Linked DNA regions of Homo sapiens. The protein of the gene in region 1 binds, or shares a complex with, the protein of each later gene. Each region holds a gene or a part of one and is shown on either strand. Other genes may lie near its edges. A codon is read from its position in the direction of its gene.

Evidence for each region. Proteins that work in one complex are often made in the same cells at the same time.
Region 2: the proteins of LYRM4 (region 1) and NDUFAB1 are in contact, whole or in part, in a crystal structure (PDB 6ODD), measured with the Homo sapiens proteins. Residues at the interface, in NP_065141.3 of Homo sapiens: Arg6 (codon at 3,250), Leu10 (codon at 3,238), Ser11 (codon at 3,235), Tyr13 (codon at 3,229), Arg14 (codon at 3,226), Leu17 (codon at 3,217), Arg18 (codon at 3,214), Lys21 (codon at 3,205), Arg37, Phe40, Arg41, Lys44; in NP_004994.1 of Homo sapiens: Lys92, Asp111, Ser112, Leu113, Asp114, Val116, Glu117, Met120, Glu123, Asp124, Glu129, Ile130, Asp132.

Annotation. Positions count from the first base shown.
Region 1 is NC_000006.12:5,257,469-5,265,432, forward strand, and holds the start of LYRM4 (LYR motif-containing protein 4), read right to left. Parts: upstream 3,483-7,964; 5' UTR 3,266-3,482; coding exon 3,180-3,265; intron 1-3,179.
Region 2 is NC_000016.10:23,592,928-23,600,956, forward strand, and holds the start of NDUFAB1 (acyl carrier protein, mitochondrial precursor), read right to left. Parts: upstream 3,390-8,029; 5' UTR 3,364-3,389; coding exon 3,196-3,363; coding exon of another isoform or gene 3,161-3,195; intron 1-3,160. UniProt on the Homo sapiens protein: Carrier of the growing fatty acid chain in fatty acid biosynthesis.

The sequences.
Region 1 (7,964 bases):
GGTGCCTAGCTTAGTTCAAAAATCTCATCTTTCTCTCTCCAGGGCTTGGTATAGCAGGGGTCCCCAACCCATCAGTACTGGTCCGTGGCCTGTTAGGAACCGGGCCACACAGCAGTTGAGCGGTGGGTGAGTGCGCATTATGGCCTGAGCTCCATCTCCTGTCAGATCAGCGGCGGCATTAGATTCTCATAGGTGCACCTATTGTGAACTGTGCATGTGAGTGATCTAGGTTGCATGCTCCTTATGAGAATCTAATGCCTGATGATCTGAGGTGGAAGAGTTTCATCCCGAAACCATCCCCTCCCTTGACCCGGTCCATGGAAAAACTGTCTTCCATGAAATTGGTTCCTGGTGCCAAGAAGGTTGGGGATAGCTGTGATATAGCACTGGGCAAAGCATGCTTCAGAGATGTTTTGTAGAAGCACTGAGGTAAAAGAATGACACACAGCAATGAGACCTGTTTGGCTGGTGGGAGGGATGGGAGTGGAAGCTGTGGGATGAAGAGAGTTGGGAAAACTTTTGTTCAGAGAAGGTGACAATTGAGCTCAATCTTGAAGGAAGAGGGGGCACTCTAGACAGGAGTGATAAAGGGCCTGCTGGATAGAACAGTACTTGTAAAGGCCTGGAGGCCCAACAGGACGTGGCACATTTAGGAAACTGCAACTGATGATGACAGAGGACAGGATGCACATGTGGGACTTAGGCTGAGACTGGAGGAGCAGACAGGGCTCCTGCTATCAAAACGTGGCCTATATTATAGGTCTTGCAAGAGAGTTCCAAAGTATTTATTTCACTACTCTAATTACTTAAGGCACAATTCGCAGGTCATTAAAAAACGTTTACTAGTCTGCTTTTGATTGCTTATTCAGCACTACCTGTGTTAGTTTTGATAGGTAACTTAAGCTCCCTGTGCCTCAGTTGCCTTACAGGGTAATACAAATAGTACCTACCTCACAAGATTATTGTCAAAACAAATGTGTTAATAGACATGAAGAACATAAGATAGCAGTGGCACACAGAATTGATAGTGGATGTTGTGTTGCTATTGATTTGCCATCAGTGACAAACAGCTGCAGAGATTAGAGAGGAGGGAAGGGACTTTTCCTGAAATTCACAAGACACAGCCTTAATGTAAAAGGACGTATTTTTATAACAAGTAAGTTTATCTAGGGAGGTAATAGCAGGAATGTCGGTTTTTAGGTCTATGATCTCAGGTAACAGTATAAAATGATTATCAGATTCCTTTGGATAATATATTTATATTTGGATAGTAAATTTAGCTTAAAAGTATATGCTTAAGGTATAATTTGATCAATTATTTTCTGAATGCATATGATCTTACAGTTGCCCATACTGAAACCCATTTTCAATTTTCTGCCTTTCAGGTAGAGTCTTGAATGATTTTCCTAAAGTTTGAATGATTTTCCTGTTGAGTTTCGTGAATGATTTTCCTGTTCAGTTGGCAATTACTCATTTGAAAACGCTTGGGCCTCATTTGCTCATAAATCATTTCCAAAGAGAATTTCAGAAATGGAAGGGTCCTTAGAGATTGTCTAGTCCAACAGTCTATTTCATAAACAAGAAAACTGAAATACAGAGATTGAGAGACTTGTCCAAGTTAGTCTTCGAGGGCTCCACCTTGACTTTCTTACATGCTCTCACATAAACCCTCTCCCTGCCACTTTCCTTAGTGTGTGAACTGCCTGCTGATTCCAAGTCCTTGTGTATCCTGAGTAAGCTTTAATGACAAACTATTTTACTCCAGACTATGGTGAAATCAAATGGTTTCTATTTATTTAACTTGCATATTTCATGTGTTTCCTCAACAGACTTGGTTAAGTACTTGGTGCTAGGTGTTTGGTTAATTCTTGCTAAAATTCCACCAGTATGCTTATTATTACACTCTTTATTCTCCAAAGTCAAAGTCATTAAGTAAAATCATTCTCTCCCGTGAAATTTAACCACTTAACTGGGTGGATACAACCTCAGTGGTATGACCCAGATGCTGTTTTCAAATTTGCAGCATGAGTATATTTTCCAGGCGGGTTTCTAAAAATTTGAGAGTCATTGCTTAAGAGGCTTAGCGTTCCTGTCCTCTGACAGAGGTTGTACTGGGCAGACCCATCTCAGGGCCTGCCAGCTCACACACGTGCTGGAGGGGGGCCTACCTAACCAGGTGTGTTCCAAGGGTAGGCTCTGCTCTTATGACATCCAATCCACAGTCTGGCCAGTCACCTAAGTGAGGCTTGAGGTAAAGAGATGAGTTGATCCAACCAGATTCTTTCTCATGGGAATATGGCTCAAACTCAGAGAGAGACAGGTAGTTAGTAAAAACAAAACAAAACAAAAAACAAATCTAAAAAAAAATGCAGAGAGAGAATCCATAAGAAAATGATGGGTCAGAACCAGCAACACTGTGAAAGCAGAGGCTCTGAATTAGAAAAAACATACAAAGAGTAACAATAAAAGACTCATAGGCAAATAGGGGAGTGGGGAGGCGTGAGAAAAAGTGAATGTGTTATATTAAAGATGTGAGTTTAGGCCCTCAATATCCTGCTGTCAAGGTCCAGTAAGCGGGATCTCTGTCTGGTGAGCCAGGAGAAACTGAGGTTTCAGCTCCAAAGCTTGTGAGACCCTTTTTCCTTTTCCGCTACGCATTTCCACCATACCCTAAATAGAATGGATTCTTGCAACCAAAAGAACTCATTACGACACCTAGGAAATTTTAGGGAGGTGCTAGAGTGTGCCTTCAGCTTTGTCGCAGTGTACTACTCACTGGCCACTTCCACTCTCAACTCTTCCAGTGCTCAAGGGAAGTTTTACATATGCAACACACTGGCCTTAACTTCACAAATGACTGATTTCCATCCCTTTTTTCTCTTCTGCAGAAACATAACACTAATCATGCTCCTAGAATAACTACCAAGATAGCCTTTAGGGGGAAAACGTCACAAGACATGAACGTCTCCCCTGGTAGAAAGAAAGGCTCCTCCCCGAGGTCTCAGAGGCCACACCTGTAGGCAGGAGCACGCTTTTCGATGGCGGAGCCCGGTCCTTGCCTCGCAGCCGCCGGCAAACCACGGTGGCTCCCAGTCCCCGGGGATATTCCGCGTCAGCCCGCACCCCCGGTCCCCGGCCCCTGGCCCCCCGCCCCCGGCCCCCGGTGCCCGCTGGGTCACCTGTAATTGTAGGCGCTGAAACGCTTGCTCTCTCTCAGCATCGCCCGGTACAGAGATAACACTTGTGCGCGACTGGAGGCTGCCATTTTGGAAAGAAAAAAAAATAAACGGGTCCTCTTCGCCGAGGTCCCAAGTACGACCCAACCCACGAAACTCCAGCCTGTGCGGAAACCACGAACGAAATAAAATGCTGCGGCTCGGCTTTGCCAGCGGGCCGGGCCTAAGCCTAAGCGGGCAGCCCTGCGGATCGCGGACGGCGCCAGGCGTCCCGCGCCGCTTCGGGGGCGGGCGCAGGCAGGGCTCGGGGCAGCTAAGGGGGCGGTGCTGGGAGGGAGATGCCTCCGCCCCGCCCCGATCCCGCCCCCGCCCGGAGGCTCGGGACCCAGCAGCCGCTCCACGCGGCGGGAGGGCGGGGAAATAAGAGGACTGGCCGCCCGTGCATCCAGCCAAGCTCCTGGCGGACGGATATCGGAGGCCCAGGCATTCGAGGGACGTGCAGTTGCATCACGGAGAGCCTTTGGGAACCGTCTGGGGTCTTGGCGGAGACATTTGTGTTTCGGGGGCAGCGCCCCTTCCTACATCCAGGAGGCCGCGTTGCCCGGGTTACCGAAGGCCGCCGCACCGACGCCCCGCCCCTGACCGCCGATGCCCCTCCCACGCCGGCTGCGGTCGCCCTCGGCGCTGCCTGAGAGAGTTTGCGGGATTTCAAGGGTGACTTGATTTCGCCTGATCCTGGTCGGCAGGGTGGGGTTTCTTGGCATTCCTCAGGCCGGGGGATGCGACGTCTGGGTGTGGAGGTGATGAGCTAGGGGTTCTGTGGCACTCCGGCTCTGCTCAGGGCGACCTGCGTAGGGGCCTCTGGGGCAGGCCCGCTTTCTGTCAAAATGGCAGCGCCCAGCGTGCGCGGGTATCTCTGAAGTTGGGGTTTAAGATTCTTGCCCGTGAGAGCGAACGAGCCTGCCGTACTTCTGATTTTGAAACACCTGGGTCTGGGCTTCCCGGGCGAGCGGTGGGTGAGTGCCGGCCTCATTGCAGCCTGGGGTACGACGTGGGCGGTTGGTGTTGTAGGGGGTTTACATTGGCCGTGGATTTTTTCCTCTTTCCGGATGTGTTTTTGCTTTTGAGTGAAGAGTTCCCGTGGTTTTGTAACCTAATAAATGCATAAAATGCAGCTTGGGTTGTAGACTTTGGAGAATAATTAGAGACCTTTAGGGCTTTAGGCTTTCTCCAAGAAGCGGAGCAAGTTTTCAACCATGGCTTTCTTCAGAAGACTGCAGCTTTTTTGAATCATCTTATTAAAGTGGTGGATAAAGTTGCTTGTTCTGATCTTTGAGCATGGCACTGGACGCAGGAAGCTTCAGCCAGTCCTAGTTACTGTGTTTGCAAAGCACTTTTCTTGTTTTTGGAATCTTGCTTTATGTAATCAACCTTAGGAAGAACCACACCTTTCTGCACTCAAGCACAGCGAGAAGTACGTTATGCGTGAAAACAAAACAACTTTGCATTAAAATCCATCTTTCTCCGAACCACTTGGTCACGGTTGTGTTCTCATCTGCTTTAGTGTATTTGGTTTTGAAACGATATACCTGCTGTATGTCTAAACAACTTTATATTTTCAGGAACTTTTCTGTTTCCTTTTCTTTTTTTTGAGATGGAGTCTCGCTCTGTCGCCCAGGCTGGAGTGCAGTGGCGGGATCTCGGGCTCACTGCAACCTATGCCTCCCAGGTTCAAGCCATTCTCCTGCCTCAGCCTCCTGAGTGGCTGGGATTACAGGCGCGCGCTACCTCGCCCAGCTAATTTTTGTATTTTTAGTAGAGACAGGGTTTCACCATGTTGGTCAGGCTGGTCTCGAACTCCTGACCTCAGGCAATCCGCCCGCCTCGGCCTCCCAAAATGCTGGGATTACAGGTGTGAGTCATCACGCCCAGCCTCTATTTTCAGGAACTTTAAAGGCAGAAAAAACACTTCTCTGACCTTACCATTCTTTAGTGTACTTGCAACCTGGTGTCCTTGCATCCAGATATTCTTACTAATCCTGATGCAATGACATTTTTTAAAAGGCACTGAAGAGAAAATACTTTTATTAAGATATCTTTAAGTCTCCTCCCTGATTTCTTGAAAATCTCATGTCTGTTATTGTTTATTATTATTTTTTAAACAGGATAGCAAAACTTCTATTACTTCCTGGTTGGTCAGGTCATTGAGCAAATCTAGCCTCTGCTTTATTGAAAGGACTTTTTTGAGTTTTCCCTTTGCTATTTCTTAAAGGATCCAAGACCAAGGCAATTGCACATTGTTATAGAGTAAGATTCAGAGCTGATTTCTCTTGATACACTATTGTGTGCCAGTGATATGAAATGATATGCGGCACCTCAAAGCTACAACATTAATGCAAGTTACTGATAGAGAATGCTATCAGAGTGAAAAGGAAAAACTTGAAGATTATTTTGGCTTTTTTAAAAATAGCAAAGATTACATTATTTTATTATATTTTGCTTTTGAGAGTAAAGTTGGAATAATTACTATATACAATTGTTTCTACCTAATTATCAAGGAATTTAATCATTAACGTACATAATTAATGTATCTAAATTACTCAACTTTGTTGTAATCAAATAAAACTTTTCCAAATAAATATGTATAGTTTAAATAGTTTGGGTAGCTTAGTCCTCTGTTAGTACGAGCAATGGTTGCAGTTAGGAAAGTGATAGGCTTCCCAGTTAATTCTGAGCCAAGTCTTCATAAAAATACCTTATTATTTTATTTAAAATGGTTTACCAATGTGTTGGACATCATTGCCTGGAGAGGCTAAAAGAAAATAATCATTCCGTAGCTACATCTCACTTTTGCACATCTTCATTGCGGAGATGACTTAAAAAAAATAACTCGATTTGAGATTGTAAGTAGATTTGGGCCAGAAGCTGAAGAATGGACCTTACACATACGTCCTTTAATAGTCATTCTATTCTGGGTTGAAATTTTTCTTAGAGAGTATCTGTAAAACAGGAGGTACCATTTAGGCATCAAAACGTAAAAATTTCTTTAGTATTCATTTATCAAAAGTTATCGACTACCTGTAGTTCTTTATGGAAGATCATGTGTTACCTTCTATTAAAATTAGGGTTGTTAATGACCACTTAATGCTTTGTGAAGAGAAATTTCTCTAATCATAATAAACAGTGTAACAACAATTTACTGTCCTTAAGCTTAAATATCAAAATGATGTATAAAGTAAAATTTGTATAGTAGTAGTAACTTACGATATTATTTAGAAATTGTTCAGCTGGGCATGGTGGCTCACACCTGTAATCCCAGCACTTTGGGAGGTTGAGGCAGGTGGATTGCTTGAGCCCAGGAGTTTGAGACCAGCCTGGGCAACATGGCAAAACCCCATCTATACAAAAAATACATCATAGCGAAACCTCACCTCTACACAAAAAATACAAAAATTAACTGGGTGTGGTGGCATGTGCCTGTAGTCCCAGCTACTTGGGAGGCTGAGGTGGGAGGATTGCTTGAGCCCTGGAGGTTGAGGCTGCATTGAGCCATGATCACATTACTGCTCTGTAGCCTGGGCAACAGAGTGAGACCCTGTCTACCAAAAAGAAAAAACAACAACAACAACAAAAAGAAATTATTCTATTCTACACCACACATGAATCCAAGTATTATACATTGATCCTTCATTTTAATAGAACACGAAGGGGAAGGGGGAAGACCTTAGATATCAACTCATTCATTTGTACAGATGAACAAACTGAAGACTTTTTCCTCATTCGTTCATTCCTTCAGCATTTATTGAACACTTCCTAAGTACTATAGGTTATGGTTTTTCTTTTCTTTTTTCTTTTTTTTTTTTTTTGAGACAGAGTTTCACTCTTGTTTCTCAGGCTGGAGTGCAATGGTGCAATCTCGTCCGGCTAATTTTTTGTATTTTTAGTAGAGATGGAGTTTCACCATGTTGTCCAGGCTTTTCTTGAACTCCTGACCTCAGGTGATCCAGCTGCCTTGGCCTCCCAAAGTGTGGGGATTACAGGCGTGAGCCACCGCGCCCGGCCCATAAGTACCATATATTATATAAGATGATATAGTCACAGTGATGAGAGCTTCCCCACCCCTAAGAAACTTGTAGGTGACTAGATAAGCGAAACAATAATTTATTTTATAGAGACAGGGTCTCTGTTTACTAAGCTGGAGTGCAGTAGTGCTATCATATCTCGTTGTAACTTCAAACTCCCGTGCTGAAGTGATTTTCCTGCCTCAGCCTCCTGAGTAGCTAGGCCTATAGGCTCATGCCACCATGCCTGGCAGATTTTTAAGTGTTTTTTTTTTTTTTTGTAGAGATGAGATTTCACTATGATGTCCAGGGTGGTCTCAAACTCCTCAGTGCCTCTCCTGTCTTGGCTTCCCAAAGAGCTCAGATTATAGCTGTGAGTCGTGGCACTTGGCCAATAATTTCTTTTTGACAGTTGCTGCGATATGAGTAATATTAGTAAACGCTAAAGGAATAGGGAAGAGGAATATTGAACCAGGAGTTTCACCTATGGGAAGGCTTTCCATCGTAGAAGGTGTTTCCAGAATGAGAAGTAAAAGCCAGATGAGGAATGTGGTTAAAGATTGCAGTGTATATCCAAGCATGGAGGAAGAAGGGTGCTTGATCTATTTAGAGAACTCTTAAGTGTTTTAGAATGGTAGGAGGTGGGAAGGGAGGGACCACTGAAGTGTTTAGCCCTGTACTAGCTTTATTTTAGTGATGTTTTCTCTCTGTCTGGAATAAATCATTT
Region 2 (8,029 bases), on another chromosome or scaffold:
GCAATAACAGAAACCAGGAGTGAAGAGTCCAGGGAGCATGTGTGGTAAGAGAACTCGGGAGCCCACCAACATTTAAGGGTTAGGCACACCAGGTGTGATGGCTCATGCCTGTAATCCCAGCACTTGGGAGGCTGAGGCAGGAGGATTGCTTGAGCCCAAGAGTTCACAACTAGCCTAGGCAACATAAGGAGATTCCGTCTCTAAAAAGAAGACAGACATCAAAAAATTAGGGGTGGTGGCTCATGCCTGTAGTCCCAGCTACTCAGGAAGCTGAGGCAGGAGGACCATTTGAGTCCAGGAGGTCAAGGCTGCAGTGAGCCACGATCATGCCACTGCACTCCAGCCTGAAAGGCAAAGTGTCCCAACAAGGTAGGAGGACAAACCAACCAAGGGAGAACAGTGTCACAACAGCCTAGGGAAGAAGACAGCAGCAGAGAAGGAGCCAGCAAGTTGGACATAAGGGCTGCAAAGCGTTCAATGAAGATGTAAGCTAATGTCTTCCTTTTGTATCCATCTCTGTATCTCTCAACAGCTAGCATGAGTCCTGGCACACAGCTGGCCCTCAATATCTTTGAATGAACTTAGTCAAAACCACTTTGTAAATATAAATAAAATGGTTCCTCTGCTATATATGCAAGCCAAGCCGCCATAGTGGAACATTTCTGAGCTCCTTGCCATTCAAAGCATGGTCCAAGGAACACCCGCAGCAGGATCTTCTGGAAGCCCACTGGAGGTGGAAACTCTCTGGCCCCTTCCCAGAACTGAATCAGAATCTGTATTCCAGCCTAAGTGATCTGTATGTCCAATCAACTGAGAATCAATGCTGTAAGAACAAAGACAGTCACTTCACATTTTAGCCCAATGTTGAAATCAATCTTAGGAACCAGACACTCATCAATTCTAACTACTGCCTTTTTAACCCTTATTTATTTATTTATTTATTTATTTATTTATTTATTTATTTATTTATTGAGATGGAGTCTGGCTCTGTCGCCCAGGCTGGAGTGCAGTGGCACGATCTCGGCTCACTGAAAGCTCTGCCTCCCGGGTTCATGCCATTCTCCTGCCTCAGCCTCCCGAGTAGCTGGGACTACAGGCGCCCGCCACCACGCCCGGCTAATTATTTTGTATTTTTAGTAGAGACGGGGTTTCACCGTGTTAGCCAGGATGGTCTCCATCTCCTGACCTCGTGATCCGCCCGTCTCGGCCTCCCAAACTGCTGGGATTACAGGCGTGAGCCATCGCGCCTGGCCTTTAACCCTTAATTTCAAGGTGACACTTTTCACCTTTTGATACAGCCAACAGGGCAGTGCCCAATGAATGAATCCATTACACTGTCAGTGAACAGCAACACTGGCTTCACAAAAGAAACACTTGATGACTTCTAAAAATAGTCGCCTAGTACTCACTTCTAGATTCTGTCGATCTGGCACGGGCTGGCTGGCTTATTTAAGACGGTCTGCCTCCCAGACTGGAGTGCAGTGGCATCATCTCAGCTCCCTAAAACCTCTGCCTCCTGGGTTCAATCGATCCTCCCACCTCAGCCTCCTGAGTAGCTGGGACTACAGGCGCGTGCCACCACGCCCGGATAATTTTTTGTATGTTTAGTAGAGACGGGGTTTCACTGTGTTAGCCAGAATGGTCTCGATCGCCTGACCTCGTGATCCGCCCGCCTCGGCATCCCAAAGTGCTGGGATTACAGGCATAAGCCACCGCGCCCGGCCTAATTTCTGTATTTTTTGTAGAGACGGGGTTCCACCATGTTGCCTAGGAGGGTCTCAAACTCCTGGGCTCAAGCGATTCGCCCGCCTCGGCCTCCCAAAGTGCTGGGATTACAGGCGTGAGCCACCACGCCTGGCCAGACACACTTATTTTTCACACTAACATGCAGTCAAGGTTGAAACCACTATTACCTGAAGTCTATGACTTTGAAAAGGGGTTTCATAACTTGACCTTGGGAGTCTATCCTACCTTAAGACGGTTATTTTTATTCCCAACTGCACTTCAGAGTCATCTGGAGAACTTAGAAAACAACAAAAAAAAGGCAGGGCGCGGTGGTTCACGCCTGTAATCCCAGCACTTTGGGAGGCCGAGGCGGGTGGATTGCGAGGTCGGGAGTTCAAGACCAACCTGGCCAATATGATGAAACCCCGTCTCCACTAAAAATACAAAACTTAGCCGGGCATGGTGGCGGGCGCCTGTAGTCCCAAATACTCGGGGGGGCTGAGGGAGGAGAATTGCTTGAACCTGAGAGGCGGAGGTTGCCGTTAGCCGGAGGTTGCAGTGAGCTGAGATCACGCCACTGCATTACAGCCTGGGTGACAGAGCGAGACTCTGTCTCAAAAACAACAACAACAACACCGAAATCACTGCCTCCCGGCGTTTCAGCCTCACGCAGATTTCATCAGCTCAAGCTATATACTACAGGTACAGTCGTTCCTTGGTATTTGCGCAGATTGGTTCCAGGACCCCCGACTATACCCAAATCCCCGCACACTCACGTCCCGCAGTCAGCCTTGCAGAATCCGCTTATAGGAAGAGCCTGCCCTCCTTATACGCGGGGCGGCACATCCCGTAAATACTGGTCGCGTTTGGTTGAAAAAAAATCCGCATATAAGTGGACCCGCGCAATTCAAATCCTTATTGGTCAAAGGTCACTTGGCTTGTTTCCTAGAATTACTTCCAGGAGTCCTGGACACAGGCAGAAGGTGCTGCAGGGAAGAGTAAGGACAGAACTGCAGAGAGAAAACCGCTCTGGAGAAGGCTGTAGGCCAGTGTGGCTGCCTCTTTGCATGCTGCTTTCACTACAATACGGTGACCGCTATTTTGAGACCGTACGAGGTGCTCTAGCCGCATTAACTCATCTAATCCTCATTGCTACTCCGCAAGGTAGAGACCAGGATCCCAATTTTGCAGGTGAGTGTGAGCCAGGCTAGGAGACTTGTCCAAAGTTTCGGTAAGCGGCAGCCCAGCAGTGCTGGACTCGAGTCAGTGCTCTTGCTCGTTATTACGAGGTCACCCGGCCTCCCGTCAGGGGTCAACTAAACACCTTTAGGCAGCGGGGCTGCGGAGCGAGCCGGCTGCCCCCCGGGTCACCCCTGCCTGCAGCTGGCGCGCCCCGGATGCCCGGCCCCCACCCCCACCGGGCCCAATCCCTGACCCTTGCCAAGCGGCAGCAAAGTCACCACGAGTCACCTGCGCGAGCACTAAGGCCGGCTGCAAAGTCCCGAGCCTCGTCTGGGTCCCCGCGGAGCAGAGAGCGGTGCTGAGAGGCCGGGCCACGGCCAGCATCCGGACCCGGGGCAGCGGCGCAAAGGCCGCGGGCAGGCGGCTGACATAGGCTGAAAGGACACGAGACGCCATGGCTACGCCAACCCAGGATGCACTGCGCCGCCGCCTCCGGACCAGGGTTCCTTTCCGGCGGCGCGCAGGCGACGCACACGGCAGCGCTGTCGGGCACCGCCGGCGGTGGCGGCCCCTGGCGGCTCCTGGAGGCACTGCGCCCTCGGAGCCCATCCAGGTTCGGGGACGAACAACTGCTTGGTGTCACAACTAAACTGTGCAGACGTCGCCGTCTTTCCCTAAACGACACGGCACGAGAAACCTACTTTCATTTTTTATCTGAAAGTTCTGAAATACATCTGTTTAAACGTTTGGGGCCGGGTGCGGTGGCTGACGCCTTTAATCCTAGCACTTTGGGAGGCCAAGGTGGCAGGACTGTTTGAGCTCAGGAGTTCAAGACCAACCTGGCCAACACGGCAAGACTCCGTCTCTATTACAAAAAAGATTAAAAGAAAAAAAGGACAAAGTTTTGATTCCACAATTCTTCCACAAGTATTAACATTTATTGAATAGGTAAAAAAATATATATAATAATGTGAAAAAATAATCAATTTCAATACCTAAGACTAATAAATGTGAGAATTACGATTAAAACAATATACATGTTTTAAAACTTGACAGTGTATAATATAGCTGTCAGGTCCACGACTATGCCAACTGTCATGCCCACAGCCAGGTTCCAGCCCATATCGAGGTCTGAGGGGAGTGGGTGGATGAACAGATAGCTGAAAGAACACTCAGGGGACGGTAGGCAGGTGAAAGATGATTTTATTCAGCAGCAGCTCTCATCAGCAGCTTACTTACACTAGTTCTCTCACACTGTCTGCCTTGTCTCAGCTGCTTAGTCCCATGGCTCCCCCACACAACTGCGAGGCTGGCTCTCCCTTGCCTTCAGGGTCAGCAGCTTAACTCTCTCTCAGCTGTGATCTGGCTCCCCCTGTCTGTCTGCAAAGACTGACAGCTCTGGCTCTCTCTTTCTCTGGGCACGAACGCCTGTACAGTATCAGCAGGGCAATTATACCTTTTACAGAAAATAGTGGCTTAGAGCCAAGTGATGACCTTCCCATGTTATGCCTACATGGCTGTGATAACAAGTGGAGTTATACGCCTCTGTCTAAACTTGCTGAGTCACGCAGGATGTAAACATCTTACCTTGGCCTATCCTTGACCAAAGCACAGCCATGTTCCTTACAATAGCTAACAAAAATAGGTAAGCGAGGGAGGAGTTTAAGAAGGCTAATTCCTATTTCTAAGCAGGGAGCTAAAGGATATTGACTGAAATGGAAACACACGGGATAATGACTCCAAATTCTGAAATCTGCCTGAATGAATGATCCAATAATGTCACCAGTTTTACCTCAATTTCTTTTTATTTTTGTTAAATCCAAGTAAAATAAAATGTAATGGTATGCTGCCAGGCGCGGTGGCTCATACCTGTAATCCCAGCACTTTGGGAGGCCAAGGTGGGTGGATCACGAGGTCAAGAGATCGAGACAATCCTGGTCAACATGGTGAAACCCCATTTCTACTAAAAATACAAAAATTAGTTGGGTGTGGTGGTGCGCGCCTGTAGTCCCAGATACTCAGGAGGCTGAGGCAGGAGAATCGCTTGAACTTGGGAGGCAGAGGTTGCAGTGAGCCGAGATTGCGCCACTGCACTCCAGGCTGGCAAAAGAGCAAGACTCCATCTCAAAAAAAAAAAACGAAAACAAAAAAAACATAGTTTCATCCCACTGTTGTAAAATAATTTCTATTTATTATAGCATTCCTTTAAAACTCGAGTGTCTGGGGGCCAGGCATGGTGGGTCAAACCTGTAATCCCAGCATTTTGGGAGGCTGAGGCAGGTGGATCACCTGATGTCAGGAGTTTGAGACCAACCTGGACAACATGGTGAAACCCCGTCTCTACTAAAAATACAAAAATTAGCTGGGTGTGGTGGCAGGTGACTGTAATCCCAGCTACTCAGGAGGCAGGAAGCTGAGACAGGAGAATTGCTTGAACCCGGGAGGTAGAGGTTGCAGGGAGCTGAGATCGCGCCATTGCACTCTAGCCTGGGCAACAAGAGTGAAGCTCCATCTCAAAAAAGTCTCAAAAAAAAATTGAGTATCTGTTACGTACTAATTGTTGAGGCTGCAACTGTGAGCAAGCCAGACAGGCAAGCCTGGTTCAGTGGCTCACCTCCGTAATCCCAGCACTTTGGGAGGCCAAGGGAGGTGGATCGCTTGAGCCCAGGAGTTTGAGATCAACCTAGGCAACACAGGGAGACCTTGTCTCCATAAAAAATTTAAAAAATTAGCCAGGCATGGTGATGCATGTCTGTGGTCCCAGCTGCTTGGGAAGCTGAGGTGGGAGGACCAATTGAGCCCAGGAGGTCAAGGCTGCAGTGAGCTATGATCACACCACTACACTCCAGCCTGGGCAACAGAGTGAGACTCTGTTTCCCAAAAAAATGTAGCTCTTAGCTTAGGAAGAACCTAATCCTACTAAGTTCACAATTGGGGCCATCTCTTCCCATGACCTATCTAGTCTTTCAGTGTTACACGTATGTATGTATATATGTATGTATGTATGTATTTATAGAGATGGGGTTTCACCGTGTTAGCCAGGGTGGTCTCAAACTCCTGACCTCATGATCTGCCCGCCTCGGCCTCCCAAAGTGCTGGGATTACAGGCGTGAGCCACTGCACCCGGCCTCAGTGTTACATTTAATCCTTTTGGTAAAACATAACAAATCATCTCTTATTTAAATAATTTGGGAGAGCTACTTTTCCCTTCAGCAAACAAATAAAGACAAAATATCAGCCTACATGGCCTGTAGGGTAAAAGTCCCAATATTAAGATCACATCCTTAGCAGATGAGGAAGAGTTAAAAGACAACACCGGTGCTTTTCAGTAACATTCCCATCAAAGGATGGATAAGCATAAAAGCTGTCAGCTTCCCAGCACAAACTATCCCACCAACCCACCATGATCGCTCCCTCTGCCAGCCCATTTGCACGGTAGTCTCATCCCCTCTTATTCCCAATGGGACCTTATACCACCAGTTAGCTCTTCTTCCCTACATCTCAAAGGTCTCTCTTCTGGCTCTTTCTCCTGAACCCATAAACACATCAAAGTTCCTCTTAGCCTAAAAACAAAGTAAGAGGACCCTCCGCTGACCCTTTATAGATCTCTAATACCATTCCTCCTACCTTTCATAGACAAGCTGTTACATGTGGGGAAAAGCAAGAGAGATCAGATTGTTACTGTGTCTGTGTAGAAAGAAGTAGACATAGGAGACTCCATTTTGTTATGTACTAAGAAAAATTCTTCTGCCTTGAGATTCTGTGACCTTACCCCCAACCCCGTGCTCTCTGAAACATGTGCTGTGTCAACTCAGAGTTGAATGGATTAAGGGCGGTGCAAGATGTGCTTTGTTAAACAGATGCTTGAAGGCAGCATGCTCCTTAAGAGTCATCACTACTCCCTAATCTCAAGTACCCAGGGACACAAAAACTGCGGAAGGCCACAGGGACCTCTGCCTAGGAAAGCCAGGTATTGTCCAAGGTTTCTCCCCATGTGATAGTCTGAAATATGGCCTCGTGGGAAGGGAAAGACCTGACCGTCCCCCAGCCCGACACCCGTAAAGGGTCTGTGCTGAGGAGGATTAGTAAAAGAGGAAGGAATGCCTCTTGCAGTTGAGACAAGAGGAAGGCATCTGTCTCCTGCCTGTCCCTGGGCAATGGAATGTCTCGGTATAAAACCCGATTGTATGCTCCATCTACTGAGATAGGGAAAAACCGCCTTAGGGCTGGAGGTGGGACCTGCGGGCAGCAATACTGCTTTGTAAAGCATTGAGATGTTTATGTGTATGCATATCTAAAAGCACAGCACTTAATCCTTTACATTGTCTATGATGCAAAGACCTTTGTTCACGTGTTTGTCTGCTGACCCTCTCCCCACAATTGTCTTGTGACCCTGACACATCCCCCTCTTCGAGAAACACCCATGAATGATAAATAAATACTAAGGGAACTCAGAGGCTGGCGGGATCCTCCATATGCTGAACGCTGGTTCCCCGGGTCCCCTTATTTCTTTCTCTATACTTTGTCTCTGTGTCTTTTTCTTTCCTAAGTCTCTCATTCCACCTTACGAGAAACACCCACAGGTGTGGAGGGGCAACCCACCCCTACAGTTACACTTTTTCTTTTTGTCATTGTTTGAGACAGAGTCTCGCTCTGTCGCCCAGGCTGGAGTGCAATGGTGCGATCTTGGCTCACTGCAACCTCTGCCTCCTGGGTTCAAGCGATTCTCTGCCTCAACCTCCCGAGTAGCTGAGACTATAGGCGCCTGCCACCACTCCCGGCTAATTTTTGTATTTTTAGTAGAGACTGGGTTTCACCATTTTGGCCAGGCTGTCCTTTCTGCCCAGAATATCCGTTGCTTCTGCTTTGACCTACTTATCCCGCAAGGCTCAGCTAAATTGCCATCTCCCATGAAGTTTTTCTGGGACTCCTGGGTTGTCCAAACTGCTCAGCCTTGAGCTTCCATAATAGCACCTGGAACATATCCCTTAAATTTTTTTTTTTTTAGCTTCCTTTTTTTTTAATTAGAGTCTCGCTCTGTTGCCCAGGCTGGAGTGCAGTGGTGCAATCTCTGCTCACTGCAATGTCTGCCTCCCAGGTTCAAGCGATTCTCCTGCCTCAG